Linked DNA regions of Homo sapiens: region 1 is linked to region 2. Evidence: fine-mapped expression QTL. A gene starts in region 2. The other region holds a variant in brackets. All regions are shown on one strand. Distances are between the middles of the regions. Region 1 has its middle 15 kb from the start of HAND1. Region 2 holds the start of SAP30L (SAP30 like).

Evidence for each region. PIP is the estimated chance that this variant, and not a neighbour inherited with it, causes the effect. A credible set is the group of variants that fine-mapping cannot tell apart.
Region 1: its variant is the best candidate, but not a certain one, in a credible set for the expression of SAP30L in whole blood (INTERVAL, PIP 0.86).

Annotation. Positions count from the first base shown.
Region 1 is chr5:154,490,336-154,495,710 of GRCh38, forward strand. It overlaps the pseudogene LOC100128833 and the pseudogene LOC100271907. Among named protein-coding and RNA genes, the nearest start is that of HAND1, 15 kb to the left of the region's middle. The variant G/C (reference allele first, on the strand shown) is at 2,001.
Region 2 is chr5:154,442,660-154,448,034 of GRCh38, forward strand. SAP30L (SAP30 like) reads left to right here and starts at 3,338. Exons shown (of 4, transcript NM_024632.6): 1 at 3,338-4,146. The coding sequence starts at 3,946. It overlaps SAP30L-AS1 (SAP30L and GALNT10 antisense RNA 1), which reads right to left and starts at 3,163. Exons shown (of 3, transcript NR_037897.1): 1 at 3,079-3,163; 2 at 703-821. RefSeq lists enhancers at 2,962-3,081, 3,135-3,635 and silencers at 3,212-3,741, 3,872-3,981.

The DNA of each region.
Region 1 (5,375 bases), 48 kb after region 2:
TGCTGGCAACAACAGCATTTATTTGGTAATAAATATTCAATAAATGTTTGTTGAATGAATGCGTTAAGTAATTTACAGGGATCATCTCATTCAATTCTCAAAAGTACTTCAGGAGAAAGTGCAGTTATTACCCCCATTTTGCAGGTAAAGTAACTGAGGCACAGAGAATTTAAATAACTTGTTCAAGCTTCCCCAGCTGGTAGGCGACAGAGCTGCAACTTGAACCCACTGAGTCTCCAAACACAGTTACAGAAGGATGGAAAAAGAGGGAGAGAGAAAAGAAGGAAAGACACGAGAAAAAATGGTTTCATCGGTGAGAACAGTTAGACCAGTGAAATGAATATCTGAGATGCTTCACCTAGGGGACTAGTCAAAGATGCAGAATCTTGGCCCCATCTCACACCTAATGAATCAGAATCTGCATTTTTAAAAACATCCCAAGGGACTCATATGCACATTCAAGTTTGAGAAGCCAAGACAGTTAATATGAAATCTGTTTGGGAAAAATAATTTACACATACACATGCACACACACACACACATATATAATATATATATATTTACTTGTATTTGTCTTGGCTGGTACTACCTTGCTAAGAAATTGGGGCATAGCTGTATAAATCAGTGTTCTTCAAAGTGCAAGTGATGGCTGTTTTGTGGATTGTGAAAACATCTTAATGAATTGCAATCAGAAACTAAAAAAATAAATAAAAATTATCAGAGTGCATCTTATGAAGAAAGGGTGTGTTATTGCATGAAACTTTTATTTCAAGTGTGTGTGGGGGTGGTGAGTGTACTGGCTCTTGAAGTAAAATGTCTACCTCCTGTCCCCTTCGTCAGAAAAGTTGTGACTGGCCTTCACACCATGGCCAAAGGCAGCCATGGGTAGTTTATTTTTTGTTTGTTTTTTGTTTTTGTTTTTGTTTTTGTTTTTTGAGGCAAAGTCTCTCTCTGTTGCCCAGGCTGAAGTGCAATGGCCCAATCTCGGCTCACTGCAACCCCCACCTCCCAGGTTCAAGCGATTCTCCTGCTTCAGCCTTCTGAGTAGCTGGGATTACAGGCGCCTGCCACCACACTTGGCTATTTTTGTTTTTTCAGTAGAGACGGGTTGTCACCGTGTTAGCCAGGCTGGTCTCGAACTCCTGACCTCAGATGATGATCTGACCACCTCGGCCTCCCAAAGTGCTGGGATTATAGGCATGAGCCATGAGATTCTTTTTTTTTTTTTTTTTTTTGAGACGGAGTCTCGCTCTGTCGCCCAGGCTGGAGTGCAGTGGCACGATCTTGGCTCACTGCAAGCTCTGCCTCCTGGGTTCACACCATTCTCCTGCCTCAGCCTCCCGAGTAGCTGGGACTACAGGTACCCGCCACCACGCCCAGCTAATTATTTGTATTTTCAGTAGAGACAGGGTTTCACTGTGTTAGCCAGGATGGTCTCGATCTCATGACCTCGTGATCTGCCCACCTCGGCCTCCCAAAGTGCTGGGATTACAGGCGTTAGCCACCACGCCCGGCCAAGCCATGAGATTCTGAGCTGACATTTAGAAGTGTGGTGGATCTCCTTCCTATATCTGATAGATTTAGAAACTCTGAATGAAATCAGAATTGGGTGGGGAAGGAGGGTGAATGTCTCAGAAATTATCCATCCCAGCCACTTCCCTGTCCAGGTGCAGAAACACAGTCCCAGAGAGGAGAGGGATTTGCCCAAGGGCACACAGCAAAACTGGGACTTTGGAGAGAGGAGTGTAACAATGTCAAGTCTTTCATTCCTTTTTTGTCTCAACCATGAAAGTCTTGGGGGCTGGGGGGACCTGGCCTGGAGGCCAGGCAGCCAGGGGGACATGACTCTGGAATGTGTTGGGGAAACAAGATGCCTTCTCCTCCAGACCTGACAAGCCAACAGGACTAGGTGTGGCAAGAAAGGGCTCTGGTTATCTGCCTCCCCCCTCTGTTTCGTTTGGTCTGTCAACTCCAGCAACAAAGTGCCCCAAACGTGTGAG[G/C]CTTGATAAAGATGGGAAGGTAAGAGGGTGAAGGTAGTGGGACAACAGGGACCAGAGCTTGAGAGGTGTCCCAGGACCTCTGTCTCTGCTTTCTCCAAGAGTCTGGGAAGCCAGCAGGATACCCCTCTCTCCTTCACAGCCTCCCCCTACTCTGTGATTGTGGCCAAAACCCTTAACTTCTCTGGGTGGTTGTGTCTTCTTCATTTCAAGATGGGACAGGATAAACCCTTAATACTTAGATCCTAAATCAGAGGATTTTGACTTTGAAAAAGAAGTCTACCATCTTATTCTTCCCTTTGTATTATTTTTTTAATTCAAAAAGTAATATGGGCTGGGCCTGGTGGCTCATGTCTGTAATCCTAGCACTTTGTGAGGCCGAGGCAGGAGAATGGCTTGGGCCCAGGAGTTAGAGACCAGCCTGGGCAACATAGGGAGGCCTCATCTTTACAAATAATAATAATAATTAAAAAAAAAAAAAAGCTGGATGTGGTGGTGTGCCCTTGTAGTCCCAGGTACTTGGGAGGCTGAGGTGAAAGGATTGCTTGAGCCCAGGAGCTTGAGTCTGCAGTGAGCTGGGACCGCACCACTGCACTCCAGCCTGGGTAACAGAGTGAGATTCTATCTCAAAAAAATTAAAAAAAAAAAAAAAAAAAAAGTAATGCGAGAACCTGAGAAAGAAGAAACCATCCATAATCTTTCTAACCCCAAATAACTGTTACCATTAGGATGTGTATGTTGCCAAAATGGGGTCAGAGTCTATTCTGTTTTCCTTTTCTCACTTAGCAATGGGTGGCCGGCTTTTTTTTTTCAGGGGTGGGGGTGTCAATGAATATTATTTACTTCATATTACGTGGCTATTTGATAATTATTGATTATTGTTAGGTTTTCTAAAGGTGTGATAATGACATTGTACCTATGCTTTTTTAAAAGAGTCCTTTTAGAGACGGCGTCACAGGTGGTGGAGCGCTGGGCGATCAGGCTGCCTAACTGGCCGGCTTGGGCGTCTGGGCGGTGAAGGTGGGACTGCCTGTTCTGGGCAGCAAGTTCCCCTCTCCAGCTGCCCGCCATTCATAACATGTCCGCCAGAACCCGGGAAGCACAGGCAGGGCTGGCTTAGAGAAGACGCGGTCCCCAGCGCTTGGGCCACGGACGTCCCAGCCCGGTCCTCTGTCGCAGGAGAACCGCTGGGCCGAGCCGCTGGGAGAAGCAGGCCAGAGCCTTCCAGAGCCTCCGCCCGAGGACCTGACAAAGAGCGCCTCCTCCTCCGCAGCCGGGTTCCCGGTGGCCTTACCAGCCTCCAGCAGCAGAAGCAACGCCTGATCGAGTCCCTCCGGAACTCACACTCCAGTATAGCTAAAATACAGAAAGATGTGGAATACAGATTGCCATTCACCATAAACAACCTGACAATTAACATATATTGCTTCCTCCACAATTTCCTCAGGAAAAACCAGTGATCAGTGTTTTTCCACCAATACGACATCACTTAATGGATAAACAAGGAGTGTATGTTACTTCTCCATTAGCAAACAATTTTACAATGCACCCAGATCTTGGAAAAATTATTCAGAGTCTGTTGGATGAGTTTTGGAAGAATCCTCCAGTTTTAGCTCCTACTGCAACAGCATTTCCTTACCTATACAGTAACCCAAGTGGGATGCCGCTTTATGCTTCTCAATGTTTTCCATTTCTTCCTCCATATCCCCCAGAAGAAACAAAGAGGAGTTATCACTTCTTTATCTGTTGCTAATACTGTTTCTTCTTCAACAACAAGTCATACCACAGCCAAGCCCGTCGCTCCTTCATTTGGTGTCCTTTCAAATCTGCCATTACCCATTTCCACAACAGATGCTTCAATATTGACAAGCCAAAATGGTTTTGGTTACAAGATGCCAGATGTCTCTGATGCATTTCCAGAACTCTCAGAACTAAGCGTGTCACGACTCACAGATATGAATGAACAAGAGGAGGTATTACTAGAACAGTTTCTGACTTTGTCTCAACTAAAACAAATTATTACTGACAAAGATGACTTAGTAAAAAGTATTGAGGAACTAGCAAGAAAAAAATATCCTTTTGGAGCCCAGCTTGGGAGCCAAAAGGCAAACCGTTTTAGATAAGTATGAATTACTTAAACAAATGAAGTCTGCTTTCAAAAAGAAGATGCAAAGGCAGTGTGAACTTAGTGAGAGCTGTAGTGCAAGTGCCCTACAGGCAACATTGAAAGTAGCTGCACATGAAGCTGGGGAAGAACCTGATAATATTGTGGAAGACTTTGTGGAGGGAAAAATGGAAATAAATGATTTTCTCAGTAGCTTCATGGAAAAGAGAACAATTTGCCACTGTAGAAGAGCCAAGGAAGAGAAACTTCAGCAGGCAATAGCAATGCATAGCCAATTTCATGCTCCACTATAGACATACACTGCCAAATGGAAGAAATTAAAGCCGCTTCCTCAATATTAGGCAACAAAGTTTCTAAGAGTGGGCAGCTACAAGAATGGCGTGTAGTGAGTTATGTTATAAAAATGTGAAAGCCATTACCACTATATCCTAAGTATTTATCATTTTAGCAAGGTATTCCCTGTTACATACAGTATATGGCAGAAAATGAATATACATTCCTTGTACTTAATTTGGGAACTGCTCAGCAGGTAATGCTCAAATTTTATATTCTAAAAGAATTACACTTGCTTTATTTTTTACATTAACAGAGTACTTTTATATCACAGTTCTTTAGTATATTCTTTTTTTTGAGACGGAGCCCAGGCTGGAGTGCAGTGGCACTATCTCAGCTTATCACAGCCTCCGCCTCCCAGGTTCAAGCTATTCTCCTGCCTCAACCTCCCGCATAGCTGGGATTACAGGCATGTGCCAACACGCCTGGCTAATTTTGTATTTTTAGTAAAGAGGGGGTGTCTCCATGTTGGTCAGGCTGGTCTCGAACTCCTGACCTCAGGCGATCCACCCGCCTTGGCCTCCCAAAGAGCTGGGATTACAGGCGTGAGCCACCGTGCCCAGTCACATATTCTATTTTTAAATATGATGAACACAATTACATTTTTTCATTTATATATATATTGCCACACTCCCTCCAAATCTTTCATACTAGAGAGATCAGCAATGTTGCTTTCTTGCCCTTTCTCTTTACTTTGTTCTAATTTCAGCAAAATGTAATACAGTCTCCCATAAAAAATTTACATATTCAAAATATTGATGTAAATTGTAGAGTTTAAATTAATCCTTTTACATTCTAGAATGTACTAGTATATTAAAACCATACAACATGAATATCATTTATCTCTGTCCAAACATGGCAACTTTTCTCCACTAAGTCTCATTTAGGTCACCCAGTGAAGTCTTTGTTTTACTCATAAG
Region 2 (5,375 bases):
GGAATGAAGGTGGGGAGGGCAGGGGCAGAAAAGACAGGAAAGAAAAAAAGGGTCAGTGAGCCTGGCCCTTAGACCTTGGAAAACTTTGTAGTCTTTGACCACAATTCCATCTCTGGCACTCAGAAAAAATAATAATCCTAAATAATAAAAAGTTTTATGTTCAAAAATAATTATACAGAACCACACAAAAAAGATATCCAACTTCTGGGGGGGCAAATGTAACTACGGTAGGAATCATGATAGCTGACATTTATTAACCACTTATGATGTTCTAGGCACTGTGTTAAGAATTTGTCACCACCTATTTCATCAGACTCAAGAAGTGAAATAATTGCTAACATGTTATAACAAGTCATGGGTGGAGTCCAGATCTGAACCCAGTTCTGACAGCAAAGCCAACTGTCTTTAGCACCACAGTGTACTGTACTACAGAAACTGCACTGTACTACATAAAAAATGGCAACTGTGAAAACTACATAGCAATATGGGGAAAGATTATGATAAAGTATGCCTTGAATAAAGACTACAAAATTATACATAAAGAATGGCTGGGAGCGGTGGCTCACACCCGTAATCCCAGCACTTTGGGAGGCCGAGGCGGGCAGATCACCTGAGGTTGGGAGTCCGAGACCAGCCGGACCAACATGGAGAAACCCCATCTCTACTAAAAATACAAGATTAGCCGGGAGCAGTGGTACATGCCTGTAATCCCAGCTACTCGGGAGGCTGAAGCAGGAGAATCGCTTGAATCCGGGAGGCAGAGGTTGCGGTGAGCCGAGATCGCGCCATTGCACTCCAGCCTGGGCAACCAGAGTGAAACTCTGTCTCAAAAGAAAAAAGAAAAAAGAAAAAAAAAGAACAGTTACAAGCATGAACTCCCCCACCACCACCACCACACACACACACACACACAGAGGCTGGCTGGGCGTATCAGGCTGGGTGTAATCAGGAAAGAGTAACCTTACAGTAATTTGAACAGGAAAATAATAATATAAACATGTATTAATTATAATAGGGGACTGTAGTCCCCTACAGTTATAAGGAACTGCCTAGTAAAAAGAAAAAAGAATGCTAAATAATACAAGAATAGCAGATATAAGTAGCCACTACCTCAAGGACTGAGACAGAGCACCTAAGAAAAGGTCCTAGATCCCCTTAGACCAGGGCAAGTTGGTGCAGAAGAAGTTGTGTACCGCAATAGCCTAGCATTGAATACAAATGCTGTTTAGAAAAATATGGGGAACATGGAGGTTTCATCCATACCAACTGACTTTGGACCCAACATCACACAGTGCCTGGTACAGATACCCAAGTGTTTTCTACATATATGTCTGAACACCCCAGATAGGAGATATTCTTTTAGGGCAAGGGTTATGTTTCATCCTCCTCCTATAGCCAACCCTATACTTGGTATACATAATGAGTTCAACAACAATTTACTTTTGAACAGAATATATGAACTCTGAGGGAAGACTCCTATTAATCTGTGCCTTTTTTCCATTAATTTTTATTCTATTTTTTCTACTGTAAAAACAAAAATAATGCTTATTAAAGAAAATGCAAAGGTTAAACAAAAGGAGAAAAATATCAGCCATATTCCTGCTACCCAGAAATAATCACTGTTAGTACTTTGGTGCATTTTTTATACCAATAGTTTTCTTTTTTCTTTAAACATAGATGTACAGACATCGTATCCTCCATGCAATTTCATATCCTGAATTTTTTTACTTATCATAAAAAAAGCATTTCTCCAACTCCTCATCAGCTCTTTATTTAAGAATTAATGGTGAATTATTCTCTATAGAAAATGTTTACATTGATGTTGAAACTACCTCAAATGCTAACTGCACAATCTCTTTCTGAAGATTTTAGGTAGTTTACTTAACCACTTCCCTTTTGGAACTCTGAGGTTCTATTTTATTTTTCCTATTATAAATAATTCCATAATGAACATCACTGTACTTCATATTATCTCTGATAGGCCTATTTCCGACGATGGCTGTCCCACGTGTGAAATTACCAGTTCAGATGCTACAAATGCATTTATGGCCACTGAGCAAAACTTAAGATCACCAGCCACCTGCTTCTAAACATGGAAACTGGTAGCTTTCCCTTTTACAACAGGACACAAACCCGAAGCTCCTTCTATGCCCTCTAGTACTAACACTTGCTTACCTATCACCTAACACAGCCTCCCCTCTTCCCTGCCCATAAAACGCTGCCCAGCCCTACATAATTACACGACCCTGGGCTGGTCCCATCGCCTTTCGGACCTCATCAGTCCCCATGCTGCGCAGTTGGAGAGTGGCATGACTGAAGTGCTGGACCAGAGCATATCCTACGGCCCCTCCTGGAGGGGAGGTGGTGCCCTGGGCGCCGAAACCAAGCGCAGGGTCTTGGCAGGGCGCAGTCGCTTCGCCGGTAGACCCGGGGACTCAAAGCAATAGAACTACAGCTTGGAGCTCCAGGGAGAGCCCAAGACACCGCAGCCCTTCCCCATCTAGATTCCGAGATTGGCCCCTGGGCCCCACTCCCAGCCTTCACTTCATCTCCCCTGAAGCCCTTTCTCTTGCCCGCGGCTCACCTAGTCCACCCTCCAGACCTCATTCGGACTTCCCATTCTTCCCAGTGGAGGGGTCGCCCAAACCCCTCGGGGTCTCCTTTCCCCCTCTCCTTTTCTTTCCGCGCCGTCCAAGCCAGTCCCACTCTCCACACTCTGGAAGGTATCGGCTACCCCCAATATTGCGACTGCCTTGCAAGATCCCCCCATCACCTCCTCCGCATGTCTTTCCACGTATCTGTATGGGGTTGTCCCTCTGTCTTTCCCGCCATGACTGGCTTTCCGTCCTATTTCACCCACCCTTCCTCCCACGGATCCGCGAGTCCTCTGGCCCTGGCCCTTTCATTTTATTAGTCCGCCCCTCTCCTGATAGCACCTCTATCCTCTTTAGGTCCCCTCATATGCCCCTCCTCCAAGTCTGTCCCTCAGCGTCCCCGTCCGCGTCTCTACTGTCTGTCCCCGAATGTGTTCCTCTGTTCCTGGAGTCTGGCCCTCGGTCCAGCCAGGCCCCTGCTCACCATCCCTCCCCCGGGCCGGAGAGTCTGCAGCCCGGTTCCCGGTTCTCGCTGGGGTAACTCTTTCCTCTTCCACTTTCTCTACTTTGAACCCATCCCAGCAGAGTCCAGGAAGTAGCCTGGCGCCGGAGACTGGCGGCGGCGACGCCCAATGGGACGCGCCAGCGGCGGCGGCAGCCCCGCCCAGAGAGCAAATGAGACCAATGGTCGCGTGAAGGCGGGACTTCCGCTGTCCCGCGAAGGGCGGGGGGAGCGAACTGTTGTGGTGCGGAGCGTTCGGCGGGCGGCGGCCGGGCGGCCCAGGGGCTGCCGCGGGACTCGGGGCGCAGCCGAGTGGCTGCAGGGGTGGAGTGGGCCGGACGAGCCGCGGGGCCCGGGTGCCGCGGGTTCGAGGCCGGGCCCCGCGCGAGGAGGCCGCGCCACCCCGGGGGAGCTGCCCGGCAGCGAGTTTGCCCCGCTGCCGAAAGAAGGCGGGAGCCGGCAGGGGCCTTCGAAACCCCCTGGCAACCCAGGCCCGGAGTCCTTGGGGAGCGGCTGTTTCCTGGGACGCCCTCCCGGACACCCCCGCTGCAGGGTTACGGTTCTGGGCCCCCGGCAGAAGGCTCCTCCGGGTGACCCCCGGCGGGGCCCTGCGAGCCGCGGGAGCCGACCCCGGGGCCTCGAGCCGGGAGGAAGGGGGCTTCCGGAGGCGGAGGGCCGGGGGCCGAGGGAGCCGGGCCTCTCGGACGCGGGGCAGGGCAGCGCCCGGGCTGGAGACGGACTCTGGGACCCTCGGCTGCGGGGGTCTCAGCGACCTGCCCCGCGGCAAGCGCGGCCGCGGAGTGGCCTACCGGGGACCCTCCCCCAGAGGGACCGGCCCGGGGCGGGGAGATGAACGGCTTCAGCACGGAGGAGGACAGCCGCGAAGGGCCCCCCGCCGCCCCAGCTGCCGCCGCCCCGGGCTACGGCCAGAGCTGCTGCCTCATCGAGGACGGCGAGCGCTGCGTCCGGCCCGCGGGCAACGCCTCCTTCAGCAAGAGGGTCCAGAAGAGCATCTCGCAGAAGAAACTCAAGCTGGACATCGACAAGAGCGTGAGTCCGCCCCCGCTCGCGTCTGGGCCCCGGCGCCCCCAGCTCTCCGTCCGCTGCCCTGGGCTCCAGTCGGGACTCCCCGGGCACTCCCCGCCGTGGGCCTCGCCGCCCCGGCTCTGCAGAACTGAGTTGGACTCCGCATTTCAAAGGCCGCTCCAGCGCTGACATGCTCTGACTGTGATTCTACCCAGATCCGGGAGGATGGGGGCGGGGGCTTCAGGACTCCTGCTGCCTGGAAAGATTGGACAGCAGTTTCCAACTTGTTTTATTGGTTTAGACTTTAGAGCAGGGAGAGGTGGGTTAGTTTTGTTGGCCCTTGAAGGAGCAAGAATCGGAGCGGGGAGTGATGAAGATACCCGGCTCTTTTCCAACTTCTCTCTCCTTCTAGGAACCCTGTTATTCCTTCAGACAGAGAAAGGTGGCAGTTACTTCCCTGGCTCCCGCATCCTCGGTATCAGCAGAGGGTCACCGAGCTAGCTGCTTCGCAGGCAGCTGTGGGAATGGGTTTTTCTAGGATGTGGCAGAAATAAGGCCAAGGCCAGGTCTTGAGAAATGGCTCTTGCAGTCGATGTGACTGGAGGGGGGAAGAAAAGAAATCAATTTTCTTAGTGGTAGTTTCTTTTGAAATAAGGGGGTGGATATTTAAATTTAAATCGGATTGCCCTGCTCTTTGTGGCTTATTATAGGAAACTCCTCCCGTGTGACTTCACCACTTCTAGTTAACAATTCTGAAGCTGTGCCTATTGTCAACCAATTAAGAACTTTTTAGTTTGACATCTGTTGCTACAAGCCTTAAGTGATTGCTTCATGATTAGGAATTGGAAATGAGTTAAGGGGATATTTAATATTCAGGTAGACTAGCTAAGAGCTTAGGTGGTTAACATCCATTCTCTTCTAGAATCAGAATTTCTCCACAGTTGGAGGAAATCAGAGACTGCTTGTTAAACTGAAAGGGAGTGCACGTTTCCCCTCTGATTTTAGGGTTGAAACAGGCCCAGAGATAGGAAGTGAGGGTGTCAGGTACACACAGCACCTAAGAGGCTGGTTAATTTCTTAAAGATATTATCTAATTTACTTCCAAGCCCTATACATAAGTCTTCATTAAGTCTCTAATAAATAAAAAATCTCCCCTGTCCTTTTTCTTTTCTTTTTTTTTTCTTTTTCTTTTTTTTTTTTTTTTTTTTTTTTGAGACGGAGTCTCACTCTGTCACCCAGGCTGGAGTGCAGTG